2 separate regions of the Homo sapiens genome follow, and region 2 is linked to region 1. A link means that fine-mapping ties the variant in region 1 to the expression of a gene that starts in the linked region. Tissue or cell type: whole blood. Region 1 holds a variant in brackets; the other region holds the start of a gene. All regions are shown on one strand. Distances are between the middles of the regions. Region 1 has its middle 54 kb from the start of LINC02648. Region 2 holds the start of LINC02648 (long intergenic non-protein coding RNA 2648).

The links. PIP is the estimated chance that this variant, and not a neighbour inherited with it, causes the effect.
Region 2: LINC02648 starts here. The variant in region 1 is the best candidate, but not a certain one, in a credible set for the expression of LINC02648 in whole blood (INTERVAL, PIP 0.89).

The regions. Positions count from the first base shown.
Region 1 is chr10:6,667,630-6,676,928 of GRCh38, reverse strand. No RefSeq gene overlaps it. Among named protein-coding and RNA genes, the nearest start is that of LINC02648, 54 kb to the right of the region's middle. The variant C/A (reference allele first, on the strand shown) is at 4,638.
Region 2 is chr10:6,613,515-6,622,813 of GRCh38, reverse strand. It overlaps LINC02648 (long intergenic non-protein coding RNA 2648), which reads right to left and starts at 4,098. Exons shown (of 6, transcript NR_120634.1): 1 at 4,038-4,098; 2 at 1,641-1,896; 3 at 952-1,104.

The DNA.
Region 1 (9,299 bases):
AACTGGTATGAGATGGTATCTCATTGTGGTTTTGATTTGCATTTCTCTGATGGCCAGTGATGATGAGCATTTTTTCTTGTGTCTGTTGGCTGCATAAATGTCTTCTTTTAAGAAGTGTCTGTTCATATCCTTTGCCCACTTTTTGATGGGGTTCTTTGATTTTTTTTCTTGTAAATTTGTTTAAGTTATTTGTAGATTCTGGATATTAGCCATTTGTCAGATGGGTAGATTGTAAAAATTGTCTCCCATTCTGTAGGTTTCCTGTTCACTCTGATGGAAGTTTCTTTTGCTGTGCAGAAGCTCTTTAGTTGAATTAGATCCCATTTGTCAATTTTGGCTTTTGTTGCCATTGCTTTTGGTGTTTTAGTCATGAAGTCCTTGCCCATGCCTATGTCCTGAATGGTATTGCCTAGGTTTTCTTCTAGGGTTTTTATGGTTTTAGGTCTAACGTTTAAGTCTGTAATCCATCTCGAATTAATTTTTGTATAAGGTGTAAGGAAGGGATCCAGTTTCAGCTTTCTGCATATGGCTAGCCAGTTTTCCCAGCACCCATAAAAGAATTTTAAAACAGAACTGTAGGACAAAATGTTAATCAGTGGGAGGTACTTGTGTTATCTGGAACAACATCTCAAATTTCTACTGCTTCAGTGTCTTTAAATACTACCACTGGCTTACCTAGTATCTGTGGTGTTTTAGCACTTTTTGTCTCAAGCTCCTTACGATAGATTTTTAAAATGAGTTTGTTTCTTGAACAATGAGAACACATGGACACAAGGAGGAGAACATCACACACTGAGGCCTGTCAGGGGTTGGGGGGCAAGGGGAGGGAGAGCATTAGGACAAATACCTAATGCATGCGGGGCTTAAAACCTACGTGATGGGTTGATGGGTGCAGCAAACCACCATGGCACAAGTTTACCTATGTAACCTGCACGTTCTGCAGGTGTACCCCAGAATTTAAAATCAAATAAAATTAAAATAAGTAAAATAAAATAAAAAAAGAGTGTGTTTCTGTCCATAAAATCGTTTCCTTTTATCCAGTCTCTTCTTTTTTTCCTTACTGTGAGACTTGATTCTCTGAGATGGCGGACCTTTCAGAGCACCACTTCGGAAACTGGCCTCGCTCTTTAAGAAGTCAAATAACCTACATGAAGTGGCTCGAACGGAATTGAGAATTAAAAAGCAGAATGGTTTACCATAAACTAAGAGGCACAGATTAATTCATAAAGCTGAAAATATTCTTAGACAGACTGTTAACTGCCATATAAGAAGGATGTTGTTAATTTAATGTAACAAAAGGGTGCCATAGAAAGGATGCATTTTATAAATCAGGTCACCCCTACAGGGTGGTCACACCTACACGTCATTTTAGGAAAAGAACAGTCAGGCCATGACTCACCCAGGAAGACGGTCAGCGTGATGGTGAAGAGGGACGGTAAGAAGAACCCCTATCCAGGAGTGGGGAATAAAACAACTAGGATGATTTGGAAATGGAGAAAACTCCATGGAGGCTGCTCCAGGAGACCTCAGCTGTCTGAAGGCCAGGCACACTAAAGGAATGCACAGCTTTTTCTGTGAGGCTCCAGAAGTCAGAGGCGGAACCCATGCATGGATTCATCAAGAGGCTAGAAATCAGCTCTCTAAACAGAACAATTCACTTGTTTTTGGAACAAGCCTTTAAATGGAACAAGCCTCAGGTATGTTGTCATCTAAGTTCTGATTCTACCTCGACCACACATACCATTTGCCTCAATATGTCAACCAAGCAAGGTAAGAATTATACGTATTTCAAGACAAAAATCTTGATAAAGTCACCATTTGTTTCAGAAATATGTTTTTGTTTCTATTGAAATACAATTCAGTACAATTCAATTCAATTTAGAACAATTCTCTAAAATGCACTTGTTTCTAAATATTGAGATTTCTTAAAAGGTAATGATGTGTCTTGCACAGGTTTCCATGCTAAGCAGCCATCCAGCTTGGGTGTTCTACAGAGAGTTTCTATGTGAGGTTGTGGGTTCCAGGAGTTGCCCTGTTATCTCTCTAAGGTCCTCGTCAACTCTAAAACTCAAGGATTATGTGATGTTGCTGGGACAATTTCTACACTGAGAGGGAGTTTAAACTATATACCAGATGAATCTTGATTCCCTCCATCCCCTAAATTCTTTGTTGTTGTTGTTGGACAGTACACCAGGAATCATACATCAGAGTTTCACCTTTTTTTTAAGTCCCATAGACACATCTCTTAATCAAGAGATGTGGTCTATACAGAATGATCCATTTTGTAGTAAGAATAAGTCCACAAACCAATGAGTAGACTTGCCCCCAAGAGCCTACTAGTAAAAACTATAAAGCATATTGCTGCAGTTTTGCGCTAATAAGCATTGCAAAGCACTGAGATTTTCTAATTTTCTAGTTCCTGTTTTTTATGACGACATCTGTGGACCTAAACTTGGCACTCAGCATAGCACATCTGTGCCAGAAATTGCAAAGGTAGACAAGAGCAGAAAAGGAAGTGGATGTTGTTCAGGAATAACGAATAGAAAAAAAGAAGGGAGATGGGGTTTTTGTTTGTTTCTGTTTTGTTTTTATAATTCACTTTTTACAGACAGAAACAAAACAGAAAATACCCACCATAAGATCCTGTGGCTTGAAGAATTGTTTACTCTGTAATCTTTTTTAGATAGATCCAAGATCAGTGAAATGATCCAGTGGATTCTGAGCTGGTACAGGCAGCTGTGAGCTCTCCATGAGGATCCGCTTCCATATTGAAGTGACTGCTTTGGTGGATCGAGCTGCATTTTCAAGATCATTATTGTTTCCAAACAAATAACCCTTTAAAACTTTTATTATATTTCTCTTCCAAAAATTGGTAAAATTTCCTTCTAAATGTTTACAGTTTTTGCTTTTTTGTTATTTCATGTTCAACTCACTTCGAAAGGCAGAAAACCCCAATCCTACCATACCTCTAATAATTCTATGCTGTTTTTCCTTCTGAAATGGACAATAATTATTGGCTGTTTCCTGACACCTAAGCTAAGATAATCATGAATGTCAATGGTACTCACAGAAGAAAAGGGAGTTTGAAGTACCTGTATTCTCTCGGAGAGTCTGATGTTTTTGGAACAAGCCTTTAAATGGTGCAAGCCTCGGGAATGTTTTTTACGTTGTGATTGTACGTCAACCACACATATCATTTTGCCTCCATAGGGCTTATTAAGTCAACCAAGCAAGGTGAGAATTGTACGTATCTCAAGAAAAAAATCTTCATAAAGCCACCGTTTATTTCGGAAATATGTTTTTATTTCCATTGACATATTTAGAGAGAGAACAAATATTGAGTATGAAATAATTCTGTTCACTAAAAGAGATGGCTTCCCATTGCATTGTTGCAGGTAGTTTTCATTGAACCACTAGTTGCTAAAACTAATGACTACCTTTGACCTCCCTCGGAAATAATAACTGATGATACCATCCAATTATAGTTTCCAGAATAGTTCTCTTCTCTTCTTTAGAACAGAAGGCAGCAGCAGTAAAATGCAATTAGCAAGAACTGCAGGGAAAGCATATTTTCTAGACTGGGTGACAATGTTGAGTTTGACTCAGTAAAAAAAAAAAAAAAAAAAAAAAAAAGGTGGTTTTATTTTCTCCCTTTGATGGAAATTTTGACTGCTAATGTCTCTATATATTTGAAGTGTTTTGATATTGTATAAGAAACACTGCCCCAGGGGTAATGGTAACTGAATATTGAAGGAGGAGAACCGAGGTAGTTGGTGGTAACCAAAGCCAGGGAGGGATGGACTGTTTCCCAGACTCCGACAATGTCAACTGTCTTTACTCTTCCAGTGAACTGGGAATTAGAAGAAAACACAAAGCAGGAATAGGCACGTACAGAGATGTTTAAGATGACAAAAATGATTTTAAAAAGAAAAAATAATCTTCTGGAAGTTTCAGTAGAAAGCTGGCATAGGCTCCCAAAGTGATGACATGATCGTGTCCAGCATTCCTTCCTGGCTTCTAGCCCTAGAAAAACACTCGCAGGCCAGGGGTGGTGGCTCATGCCTGTAATCCTAGCACTTTGGGAGGCCAAGGTGGGTGGATTACTTGAGGCCAGGAGTTTGAGACCAGCCTGGCCAACATGGCAAAACCCCTTCTCTACTAAAAATACAAAAATTAGCTGGGCATTGTGGCGCATGCCTATAATCCAATCCCAGCTACTCCAGGGACTGAGGCACGAGAATAGCTTGATATCTGGGAGGCAGAAGTTGCAGTGAGCCGAAATCATATCACTGCACTCCAGACAGCAGAGTGATACTCGGTCTCAAAAAAAAAAAAAAAAAAACACTCATTTTTTCACGCATTCAATAGACATTTTCAAGCGTGTTATGTATCTGCAGGGATGTGAGCTCAAGGGGTTCAAAATCCAGTGCAAGGTGAGGAGAGGGAGGGGAGACATGGTCCAGAAAATAGTTACAGAGAGGATGCTTCCAGGATTGGCAGAATCAGTCTCAGTTACCAGTTTGTGAGCATGCATGAAAAATGGGAAAAATAGAAGAAAAAAGCATAAAGAAGAGAGGACACAGTCAGGTTTTTAGGGGCTGAAGCCAAAAGAACTCTGAATCTGGTGCAAGATGCCC[C/A]CAAATCCAGAGAAAATGTAAGGGAGTATCCGTCTCATTTCAGCACCATGCCTGGAAGGAAGTCCAGGAACAGGTCACGGAGGGATTTGAGATTCCCAGCAGACTTGGCAGCGATCTGACATCCGCTTTTTTGACCCTGGGAATTGAATGTCTCATGTGTTTGTGCAAAGCTGACCTGATCGTATTTGAATTCTTCTTCTCTGACTCCCTATTGTGCATTTCCTCTGTATTTCCAATATGCATGGGTTAGCCTTTCCTTAAAATAGTGGAGAGAGGTCACTTACATATTTTATACACACGCAAAATGAGGTGCCAAAATCTTGGTTTAGTCCCCTGAGAGTGGCCAAGGGCTCTGAAGATCTAAGTTCTGAAAGCTGTTCCTCCTTCAGCCATCTCGAGTGTCTTCAGGGATATGATATCACACATATCACACATATCATTTTCAGAGAACAGATAATAACATTGGCAGAAAATCATTAACTCAATAGATTCCATCCTAAAGGGGGAAACCATGGTTTATAATTCATCTGATATCACTCAGAATTTTCTATAACAAACTGGATTTTCGTTAAATGAAGAGAGATCGTAGGTAAGTACCTCAACAGGGAATGGGTTGCACCTGCTTTACTTAAAACTCTCATTCCTCAGTGCTCTGTAAAAGAACTGCAAGCATCCATCTGTACTGTGATCGACAATGTCTTTAACTTCTTTGGCACAAGTACTCTGGTGGCCCTTTGGGTTCCATGTTAGGCCCCGTCACACTTTCCGAAACTTGCAACTTGAGCTTACTGTTGAATAAAAAGCGTTGGCCAAGCAAAGTTAAATTGTCTACCCTCCCAGTTAAATTTTAGGCCTAGAAACCCCTTCCCATTTTAGACTGAGATTGTGAAGACTTATTTTCTGTCCATTCATGAGAGGAACTAAATTTGCTGTACTTTCACAAGTAAAAATTAAGAGCTTCTTCGAGTATCTGGCAGAAAAGCTAATTAGGCCAACTAATCTTCATGGCAGTAAGTGTCTTTCATATAACCTTGCCTCTGCTTTCTCCAACCAGTTGCTGTTGGTTCTGCCTGCAGATTTCTGGGCCAACCCCAAAAGGGGCAAGAAGCAGAACAGAATCCTCATTCTTGCTGCTAACAGATTTAGTAACTAGGGATTCAGGGGAAGCTCAGAGTGCCCACTTAATGTACCTCCTGCCCCACTATCTTAATCCAGTACATAGGATTGAGTTTCTGCCTCAGTTTCCCTAACAAGCAATCCAATGCATGCTCAGGGTCTAAGCAGTGCTCTAAGTGCCAGCCCTCTTGGTTCAAACATTCCAACCTCTTGCCTTACCCACTGGTTATAATACTACTGTGATGTCACTGCCCTGGGAATCTTCCACTTTTCAGGCAAGGCTTGTCTGATACAAACACTTGCACAAAACAGGCCAGAGCTAAGGACATATTTTATCCACCATGCCTTAAAGAGCTTTTTAAACAAAGAGCTAGGTCCATTTCCCAGTAACTGTCCTGTCTGGCCTCAGTGTCCCTCCTTCCTGTTCTGTTTACCTAAAAAGCAAAGTGATCTGTTTATCCCCAGCCAGAGCACCCACAAAGTACAGGCACATGTAGCTGAGGCATCCCAGCAGGATGCAGCTTCCACTGCCTCTAAGATAAGTGCCAGAGAAGGGCGAGAGAACACTATCAACCCAGAAGACGGTGCCCCAAAACTTCATTATACTTCATTTCCTCTGTATCCAGACTTCCTTCCCATCTACTTGCAGTATATTATCACTGTCCCTTGACATTGACAAGTGACACAGCTTTGCTTTTTCAGAAAGAGAATAATTAATAAATGCCCTTAACCCTATCACCATAACCACTTTTTAAATATATGAGAACAAAGGCATCATCGCCCTCATAAATCTCTTTCATTCCAAATAGTACCATGACCCTGTTTATCACATGAAAGCTAGATATGAAGCCAGGAATTCTCTTCACTTCGATTATTTGTTCATTATTAATGGCATAGAAGTACCATTGATTTTGTATATCGTGCTTGTATCCTGCAACTTTGCTGAACTCACTTCATTCTTTTTCAATTCTAATATCTCCATTTGGTTCTCCTTTGTATTTCTATTCATTTGCTGAGACTTTCTATTTTTCTCATTCACAGATTTTATTGTGTTCTCACCACACAGAGAATATTGTAACTATGTGACCTGATGTATATGTTAATTAGCTTGATTGTGGTAATTATTTTATAACGTACACATATATCAAAACATCCTATTATAAACCCTCAATCGATGCCATTTGTATTTGTTGAGTATACCTCAATAGGGCTGGAAAAAAATTCTCACAAAACAAGAGTGGCAAACAATTTATCTCAAGAAATTTCAAAAAGGAATCATAGCAGCTACCATTTATGGGGCATTTCACCTATGTTGGAAATATGTGCCTCCTACACGTTATTTCATGTAATTCTTGCAATAATTATGGGATATAGGCAAATATTATCATCCCGTTCCAGAGGCTCAGAGAGGCTAAGTGGTTTGTCCAAGGTTACCCAGTCAGTATGAACCTGAGCCCAACTTGACTCCAAATTTGTTTGACTTTCAATCTAATCTCTTAAATCCTATGTGCATTGTTTTCCATAAACTCCCTCTGGCAGCAAAATAGGTATTGGGAGTTCTTTCCAATATTAAAATAACAATAAACTGTTCCATAATGAGAACATTTAACTATTTTCTTTAAGTGCTTGTCCACTTTACCATATAATGGACTATTTGCGGATGACTTGAATTACAAATAGGGAGACATCTTGAGTTAATTTCTGCTTCCCTCTTGTGTCAGAGACCGGTAATGACAATCGCAAGGGCTGTATACATTGACTTCTGCCTCATTTATCTCTCCCTTTTATTTGTCTTGTAAATGATTCCATTTCTTCTCTGTCTGAATGACTGAAAAGGCTGAATTTGAAAATTTGATCTGTTAGCAAAATATATCCCAGCTCCCTTGAAACTCTCAGTAAAATGTATCTATTTCCTTAAAAGCAACAATTTCAGTGTGTGATAGAAAGAGATTAAATCAATACAACACAACACAATAAACCTTCTTTGTCTCATGTCTTCTATAAAACCCGCCTCAAAACAATTTTCAATCTTAAGTAATACCATTACCAAGTTATAGGCAGCTCCCTGAGGAAACCTGAAGGAATGCTGAGCCGTAATGGGCTTCGGGGCTATTTCAGAGCATTAGTCTCTGGTTTATAAAATACAGGGGAATCTTTGCTTTTCACATAATGTCTCCAAAAATTCATGCTATTTATTGCACCATTAAATGCTTTAGAAGGACTTTCTATGTAAAGAAAACCTTTGGTGGATCATTTTCTAAAACAAATGAAGACTCCTCAATTTTAACTGCTTTACAAATTCACTTCTTATGTGGATCAGATTTACTTTGGGACGATCTAGAATTTTTATTTAAAGGGGCCTGTGGGTAGATTTGGCCACTGTTTTTTCTTAGATGGTGCATTTCTCCAGGGTGGTTTCAGGGGGTGGCTGTGGATGCTGTTGATTAAGATGCTCAAGGTTCGCCCATTACCAGTCATCCCCCTTGGCACTACCACTAGGATTACCCTTAAATATCTCTTATTTCTTCTACACAAATAGATAAGACTGTAGTAAAGTCCAGATGCCCACCTTTACATGTCCAATTTTTTCTTTTCTCTGGCTTATTGTGAATAATGTGTCACCCAAGCCAATACCAGCACCTTTCTGAAGATTACTATATCTGAAATGTGCAGAGCTGGCTTTGTTACTTAAGGATGCTGAAGCAAACTATATCATAACACAGAAAATAACTATAAGCCGCATGTTCCTCATAGCCATGCCTTGCTCCCTGAAGAAGCAAGTGCTGGGAAGTATGCCAGAAGGAAGAATAAAGGATACTTTGGGCACAGTGTGGTGCAACTGTCCTTTCCTCTTCTCGATTAGGGAAACTTGGTAAGTGATTGGAGTGGCAACACCCCAGCAGAACGAGACGTTTACAGAGAGAATCCACTAGTGTCTATACTATACTATGTAACACGGTATTCACTATACACACGGGCTTCTTAATTTTCAACTCATTAAAATTAAGTAAAACTAAAAATTCAGTTGCTCAGTTACATTAGCCAAAGGTGCCCATGGCTACTACGGTGGGTAACATGATATAAAACATTTCTATCATCACGGAAAGTTCTAAAGTGCTGATCTGGACAACTTCGTTTCACAGGAAGTTTATTGGCTCTGACAAGTTCATAATAAATGGCCCAAAGAATCAAGATTGAGAATCCTCAGATAGCTTTCCCTTTATAACTACAAGGGGTTAAGTCTGACATAGGTAACCAAAGAATCGAAAAAAGCAGGATTTACAAATTGCACAGGGCCAGGAGGGGGAGCTATGATCCTCTGACATTGAGTCTGACTCTTCCCCGCTACTGGAAATTGGATATTGCACAGCTGTGGCTGGATTAAGGCATCAAAATAATACAAGTCTAGTTTTGCTATAACTGTAGAATAGTTATAGCAAAATAAAAAAAACTTTTGTGACACTCTTAATTTTCGACATTTTAGAAGAAAAAAACTGATAGATTTTTTTATAGCAAATAAGCATCAGGTCATTACACAAAGTATAT
Region 2 (9,299 bases), 54 kb after region 1:
TCTGCAGGTGGTGATCAAGTGAACCTGTGATTCGGTTACAGGGAGATTGACCAAGCAGCTCCGGAGCTCAGTTTCTCCCAAAAAGTATCGTATGTAGCTTCTCCCAACGTGGTGATGAGGTTACTCGTGGACACGTAAGTAGACATAGTAGTTATCTCCACACCTTCCATGCTACCCTCCCTCTACGTGTAGCACCCATGAAATTTGAGTGTCAGAGAAGGGCAGGGTGGAGAGACACATCAAAGACTAAAACCAGGACTCTGATTCAAGAGCTAGGCCTGCTCTGCCTCTAGCCGCTAGATCTCCCTTTTTGTTTAAGACAGTCTGAGTTTGCTTTTTGGTTACTTACAACTGAAACCATCCAAACTGAAATATAAATTTTAATATAATCTTTTGGGGTAAATAAGAGAACAAATCAAACATAATCAGAGGACAAACTCTTCATTTATTGTCAAGGGAACTGCAGCTGGAAAGAATAAATACAGAATGGTTTTGCAGTTTAATAGTTTGGTGCTTCATCCATAGAAGGGATAAATTTCCAAACCTATGATTCTATTTGGAAAGATGGTGGCTAAGTCGGGCCCAGTAGTGATCTCAGACACCATCCTTTGTATGCAATGTGGTTGTTCATCTGGGCACCGTTTATTATCCCCAGCAGTAATGGGTTGCTCTAAGCATATGTTAAAATATAGTTAGTGAATAATGACCCCTTTTAAATTCATGTACCTACATAATGTCAATTTATTTGAATACTTGGCTTAAAAACCATTGTATTGAACTAGGCATGGGCACATTGACATGCTACTGCCTTTTATAACCCTGGTCTCTCTACAAGCTCATCCATTATCTCCTAATTAAACAACAAAGGTTCCTTGGAAAGGAACCCCAGTTAGACATCATTACCAAGCATTTTGCCATCATTTGCTAGATTAATGAGACTAATTATACAACCTGCAGCGATGAGTCAAGACCTTGGCGAAACAGGAGAGATGAGGTATCCAAATCCTTTTGTAAATCGCTTTAAATCAAAGCAGTCCATCTCCTATTGATAGACTGGATTACTTCAAGTGTTAGTATCTCTCTTCCTCTCAGTCACTGCATGCTCTGAAAGGGGAATGGATGACTCATAACTCTTGGGAATTCACTCTCTGCCTCTCTGCGACAGCATTGGATCCATTTTCAGCTTTACAGCATTGAGCATGTGGGCTGGGTGAGAACACTAGATATTATATTGGGTCTTCTGGTTTCGATTAGAAGAGGAGATAAGAAGAAAACTCAGTGAAACATGCAGCACATGATTAAGAACCATTCTTATCTAAAAGAATTGGAAAGAAGATTAACATTGGTTCAAAAGGTGGACTCTGAGGGTAAACGACCAGGGCTCCTGGCCCCCTCTCCTTCCTACTTGTGCAACCATAGGGAAATTACTGCATTTAATGTTTTTAAGCCTCATTTTCCCATTCTGTAAAGTGGGAATAATAATAGTACCTTTCATACACTGTTGTCTTGAGAACTCAGTGTGAGAAGGTGCTCAGCCCCAGTGCTTATTAATGCTCAATAAATGTTAGCATATGGTTTCACAAAAAGGATAATGACACTGTTGTTTTAAAAAAAGCTAATATAGATATGTTTATACTTACATGTATTCTTACTGCAGTCTTAGTAGCATTTCAAAGGAGGGACTTGGACGTTTGTAAGATTTTGAAGTCTGAATTAAGATAGGTCTTTCAATGTGGGTGTGTAATTAGGATTGAGTAAAGATCAAGATATAATAGTTTAGGATTGGTAGATAAAGCAATTGTACGGGTTTCCAGGTAAGAGGTTCACACAATCTTAGGATATAATCTGTCGTTTCATGTTTTCTAATGGTGAGTTGATGCGTCTTTCAAGATATTCCTGAAATGAGCAATAAGGTTATTTTCAGGTTTATTTTCCTGGGCAAGAGTTTAATAGACTAGCAAATTATGTTGAAAGAACATAGTGGAATAATAAAGTCAATAAGTTCTGTGAATTTCCATGTTCAATGTAAAATAAAATAGTGGTTAACCCGAAATTCATTTCTATATAAAACTTTTGGCAGTTAATTTTGCAGCAAATTTCTGTGTTAAATTTTATTTTATGAAAAGTGCTGCTAATAACTTTGTATGCATTTACCATCTCTTCATGGACACAAAGGAACCATTAAGGGAAAAGTTGGCCTTAGATCAAAATTTCTCTTCAAGAGAATTCATATTTGTAAAATCAAGAAGCAAGTTACCATACTAAATAATAAAGGATTCCCTGAGGGGCCAGTCTCTTCTTTACTTAGGGTGTCATTAAGGTTTAATTTGTGGTCACACTACTGAAATCTTATTTTTAGAGGAGAAAAAGAAAAACATTAAAAAGAACATGGCAAAAATTCTTCCTTCATGTCAATCAGTAGACTCCATCATATTTTCTCATCATTTAACCACCCCCATGACTACATTCCTCCTAATTCAGTTTAGGAGGATGAATATTCTACAGATCCATAGTGCAACCACTCCCATTGCCCATCCTTCAGATCTCTTGCCCCTTTCATTCTAGGTCCCACCCCCTGGCAAAACACTATCCATTGGTAAACCTGGCTGTTGCAAACCGACAGCCATTTCCACTTGTACTTGACCATGAAAAATTCTTGGTTATTTTGGAAGAGAAAACAGTAGTGTGGAAAGTTCTATGTGAGTGAGGGTTGGCTACTTTCCTGCCACCTGGTTATAATAAAACCAAGTCACAGATTCAACACCACCACGTATTTAGACATTTTTATACGTAATCGTTTATTAGCAGGCAGATGGGGAGGGTTCTGCAAGCTTCGTGGAGACTGAGCTCCCCGACCTTTTAGAGATCTGTCCACATCTTGCCAGAGACTCTCTGGGTCATACACAACATCGCAGAAAGAGGACTCTGTGACCCCAACGCCTGTCACCAGGCAACAAAAAACCGTCTGACTCATTCTAAACACAGGCCCAGATAGGGATGTAATTTGCTATTCTAAGTGTAAGTAATGTCTCTAAAATATTTTAGGCCACCCATACCGCTTTACTACCACTAATCTTTGTAATCTCAGCACTTTGGGAGGCCGAGGAGGGTAGATCACGAGGTCAGCAGTTCGAGACCAGCCTGATTAACATGGTGAAACCCCGCCTCTACTAAAAATACAAAAATTAGCTAGGCATGGTGGTGCGCGCCTGTAGTCCCAGCTACTCAGGAGGCTGAGGCAGGAGAATCGCTTGAACCCAGGAGGCAGAGGTTGCAGTGAGCCAAGATCATGCCACTGAACTCCAGCCTGGGTGACAGAGTGAGACTCCATCAAAAAAAAAAAAAAAAAAATTCCCATTTCCAACAATTGTGTTAATTAATGAGTGTCAAACTTCACAAAGAAAAATGCACTCTTAATATTTATTAAGCTACTTTTTTAAAAAGCCTGGAGTTGACCAGGGATAGAAGGAATCAAATTCCTTGTTGTAAATGCCTATGGAGGATGGACTTTCTGACACCCTGAGAGTGAATTTCTAAGACAGCAACTGAAGGCCCCATGAGCAGACTTCAACTTTCTAATCTGGAGGGAAGTTTTAAATGATGTTCAGGATACAAAAGGCTAAAGATGTGTGACACATAGTACATGCAAGTGGAATTTGTTTCCCTTGTTTAAAACTAATCATATCTTTTTTTTTTTTGAGATGGAGTCTCGCTCTGTTGCCCAAGCTGGAGTGCAGTGGCATGATCTCAACTCACTGCAACCTCCGCCTCCTGGGTTCAAGCGATTCTCCTGCCTCAGCCCCCCGAGTAGCTGGGATTACAGGCGCCCACCACCATGCCCAGCTAATTTTTGTATTTTTAGTAGAGGCGGGGTTTCGCCATGCTAGCCAGGCTGGTCTCAAACTCCTGACTTGAGGTGTTCCGCCCGCCTTGGCCTCCCAAAGTGCTGGGATTACAGATATGAGCCACTGCCCCCGGCCTAATCATATCTTTTTAAGCAATCAATTGTTTCCTAGAGAAAAATATAACTAACTTACCTTTTGAAATTAAGCTCTTCCCTTTTGCTTCAGGAAAAACTCACTCAAACCAGGCTTCTCCTCTGTTCTCACACTAGAACAATAAACACAGAAGACTTCTGTGACCAAAGGTGTGGGAGTTTCTTCTCACCACCAAGCAGTGGACACCAGCTGGGTGTCCTCCAACTGAATTCCAACTCTATCTACCTGGAGATAGTGACCAATCCCATTGGTTGTAGGCTCAGTCCCCAACCCCCTCCTTCCTCCTAGTTGCAAGTCCAAGCCTCCTGAACTCTGACCAACTGGCATCAAGTCAGGGTTTCCACGACTCTCCCTGGGTTTGATTAATTTGCAAGAGCAGCCCACAGGACTCAGGGAAACACATTTACTGGTTTATTCTAAAGAATGTTGCAAAGGACACAGATGAAGAGATGCATATGGTGAGATACATGGGATGGGGTACAGAGCTATCATGTCCTGGGCATGACACCCTCCAGGGCCCTCCACGTGTTCCACTAACTGCAAGCCCTCTGAATTCTGTCCTTTTTAGTTTTTACGAAGCCGTGACTGATTAAACCATTGGTCATTGGTGATCAACTTGACCTTCTTTAATGTGACACATGTGCTGCCTAAAAATTCAATTCTGAGTCAAACTTGAGGTACACACAGATGTCATTGTCAACTGAAGGGCTACAACTTTTTCCCTTGCTCTTGGTGTTTATTAAATAACAGAAAATTTGTTCCTATGTGCGGGAAGTTGCAACTGCAGTGAAGTGTTCATGGTTTCCCTGAGGCTGACAGAGCACTCTCTTACCCAGAAACCCAGGACTCGCCTCCAGAGTGATATGTGAGTCCCATCTAGAGAGTCTGGGGTTGCATGGGGTGCAGGATTCTTCCTCTTCTCTCCAGACTCTGTTCTCAGACTGAGTCAAAGATTCAACGAAACGCTCCCTCGCCTGGTCATGCACTTGTGTTTAAAGAGAGGGTAGGTATGGTTCAGTTTCATTCTACAGTGCTGCCAGGTTCTGCTCAATAAGAATTGAGACTTACTGATGGCCCCAGGCCCAAGCAACAATGGAAACATCTCAAGGATTTCTTTTGCCTCATGGTTTTTTCCAAAACTTTAGTTTTCTTTTAAATCCAAAAACTCTTGACATTTTTGGTGAAAACATTTTCTCCAGGGCTGTGCAGAGGCTTATTCAACTGGTTGATGTTATGAAAAACATCTGCCAATGTGACTAGTGTTAATAAGCCATTCTCCATCTTCAAAGCACTCCAAAAACCTGGTTTTGTGTCATCTTGAAAGTATCCCTCAAGCACAGTCATGACATTTCTGTTTGGAGGAGAAGATGATGTCTCTTTATCTGACTTTTCACAAAATTTTAAAAATCTCAGTTGAACTTATCCCTGTTTGACTGTATTTGCAGGAGCATTCAAACCTTTTGTTACTTTCTTTTCTTTATTTTTTTTTTTTGAGACAGAGTCTCACTCTGTTGTCCAGGCTGGAGTGCAGTGGCGAAATCTCAACTCACCCCAACCTCCGCCTCCTTGGTTCAAGTGATTCTAGTGCCTCAGCCTCCCAAGTACCTGGGACTATAGGTGCCCGCCACCACACCTGTCTAATTTTTGTATTTTTAGTAGAGATGGGGTTTAAAAAATTCTGAGCAAACTATTGCAAGGACAGAAAACCAAACACTGCATGTTCTCACTCATAGGTGGGAATTGAACAAAGAGAACACCTGGACACAGGAAGGGGAACATCACACACCGGGGCCTGTCGCAGCGTGAGGGAGGGGGAAGGGATAACATTAGAAGATATATCTAATGTAAATGACGAGTTAATGGGTGCAGCACACCAACATGGCACATGTATACATATGTAACAAACCTGCACATTGTGCACATGTACCCTAGAACTTAAAGTATAATTTAAAAAAAAAAGAGAGATGGGGTTTCACCCTATTGGCCAGGCTGGTCTTGAACTCCTTACCTCAAGTGATCCGCCCACCTTGACCTCCCAAAGTGCAGAGATTACAGGTGTGAGCCACTCTGCCTGGTCATTCCAAGAGTTTTTGACCCCAAGCACTACTGCATGAACAAATCAGTGTGTTGTGACAATGCCAGGTTTTTTTCTTATTCTACAAAAAATGTGAAGCCTCTTATCAAGCCAACCCTGGATGAGGTGTTACCGGTACAGATGCTAACACAATGCCCCCAAGACAGATGCCTTGTTTAAAGATACGTAGACAAAATTTAAAGTAGATCTTGGCCTTTGCTTGGTTTGAGCAGCTCTTCATAGCTGAAAATATTGCTTGAATTTCATTACTATTTACCAACCTTACTTACAAATGACATGACTGGTGTCAAGTTAGATGCTGCTGCTGCTTTTATCAGTTTATTATTCAGAACTTTTCAGGGTCAAGAGGCTTTTCAGCAATATCTCAATTTGTCTTACCATTTGAGAGTGGATTATTTTTTTCCAGTTTCTTGTACTAAAAATGGGACTAGGATTTAACTCAGTATAATTTTACATCCTAGGGATTATTAAGTTTTCACAAAAAGTGTGGCCTTTCCTTTTATGGGCAATAAGTTCTGCTAGTACGTAAGTCGAATTCTGAGTCATTTCTCAGAAAGTGACTCTTTTTAGCAAATGCTTTACACTGTTTTGAGATTCCAATGGCGATGTCAAATAATCAGCATCTTTACTTCTGAGATGTGAGGTAAAGGGTCTTTTCCATTCTGCTGGAGCCATCACTGTGGTCACAAGTTGTTTGCCAGGAAAGACACAAAATCTGGCAAGACACAAATGCCCCGTGAAATTCATTGATAAGCAGTTTCCGTTGTAAATATGAACATACAAATTTATTACATACCCTTTATTGCACTTATACAATGAAATGACTAAGAAGATTGTAGTTCTTCATCACTTTATCAGCACAATCTGTAGGTCTAGACTTAAATTATCCTCTTCTTTCTCACATCTCGTTTTCAGAAATCACCACATGGACTCTCCAACATGATTGGCAATATAAATGCTAATAAATGATAACACAGAGGGCATAATAAATACTTGAACAGAAATTGCAAAAAAAAAAAAAAAAGAAAATGTCACAATAAAATTCTCTTCTAACCTATATAAACCTTGCCTTGCAATGCTTACCACAGCAAAATGCCAGAGCAGAAGCTGAGTTGCAACACACACAAAAATTCCTTCCTTAGAATGGAAATGTCCCTGCAATTTACTATTAGGTTGGGTGCAACTTGCTTGCTCCCTTGTATCTGTCAGGAGTGCAGAAGGTTGGTCAGGGGAGGTGATCTTGGGAGGGAGAGACTGGTATCTTCAGACTAGAGTCTTTCCATGGGCACTATAGCATCCACCGATTATCAACAGCCTTCCCCAATTTGCACAGAAAATTGAGAATGGACTCCTGCAAATAAACACAGTCCTGTTCACAGCAACACAACAAGGATTAAGGATCCCTAACAAAATCCCAACAGGGCTGCTACATCACCAGCATTGTGCAGTATGTGAAGTTCAAAAACTGGGGTTTATCCGTAATGTGATACCAACTTACTCCTGCAAGAATGGCCATAATCAAAAAATCAAAAAACAGTAGATGTTGGCGTGGATGCAGTGATCAGGGAACACTTCTAATTGCTGGTGGGAATGTAAACTAGTATGGCCACTATAGAAAACACTGTGGAGATTCCTTAAAGAACTAAAATGGAACTACCATTTGATCCAGCAATCGCATTACTGGGCATCTACCCAGAGGAAAAGAAGTCATTATAAGAAAAAGATACTTGCAGATTCATACGAAAAGTCATTATACGAGAAAGATACTTGCAGATTTATAGCAGCACAATTCACAATCACAAAATTGTGGAACCAACCCAAATGCCTATTAATCAACAAGTGGATAAAGAAACTGTGGTAGAAATATACAATGGAATACTTCTCAGCCATAAAAAGGAATGAATGAACGGCATTTGCAGTGACCCAGATGAGATTGGAGACTATTATTCTAAGTGAAGTAACTCAGGAATGGAAAAGCAAACATTGTATGTTCTCACTGATATGTGGTAGCTAAGCTGTGAGGACACAAAGGCATAAGGATGATACAATGGACTTTGGAGACTTGGGGGAAAGGGTGGGAGGGGTCAAGGGATAAAAGACTGCAAATAGGGTGCAGTGTATACTGCTCGGGTGATGGGTGCATCAAAATCTCACAAATCACCACTAAAGAACTGTAACCAAACATCACCTGTACCCCCAGTAACCTACTGCAAAAAAAATTTTTTTAATTAGGGTTTACTTTTTCATTCACACTCCCTTGCAGAATCACCAGTGACATCTCACAAGATGCCATTAGAGAAACTGTGTCCTAGAGCGTAGCTTAAATGAGCATGCACATTTATGTCTGACTATTTCTGCTAAAGAGTTCTTAAAGAACAGATGTCAGCCTGCTGATGCTCCACTCTCTCATTGCCCTATGCATTTGAGTGTTTCAGAAGAAATTCATATGACCCCGCTGGGGCAGAGATTCGTCTGATGCCATGAAACTTCGAGTAGACACGAAGGAAAGGCAAGAAATTAAACACAGGAGAACTTGGTTCAGTATCTGGGGCCAGCAAGGAATTATGCACTTAGAACCCAGATGATAGGTCTCAGTGAGGCAGGTTATCTCCACCTCTCCCTATCCCCACCCATCAAGCCCAAAGAAGGTGGATTAGTCTGTTTTCATGCTGCTGATAAAGACATACCCAAGACTGGCTGATGTATAAAGAAAAAGAGGTTTAATGGACTCACAGTTCTGTGTGGCTGGGGAGGCCTCACAATCATGGTGGAAGGCAAAAGGCACATCTTATATGGCGGCAGGCAAGAGAGAATGAGAGAGCCAAGTGAAAGGGGAAACCTCTTATAAAATCATCAGATCTGGTGAGATTTATTCACTACCACAAGAACAGTATGGGGGAAACTGCCTCCATGATTCAATTATCTCCCACTGGGTCCCTCCCACAGCACGCGGGAATTATGGGAGCTTCAATACAAGATTTGGGTGGGGACACAGCAGAACCATTTCAGAAGACATAAAGGCTTCTCTCACCTGGAGGATCCTTCACACTAAAGGTTCCTGGAACAGGCACCACCGAATCCTGGATTCATCTATAGCAGGAACAGGTAAGGGATCAGAGAACAATGATCCCTTACCCCATTACAAAATGTTCATATTTTAAATGTCTCCTTTACTTTCTTGCTAAGTACATGGTAAAACCTAGTGA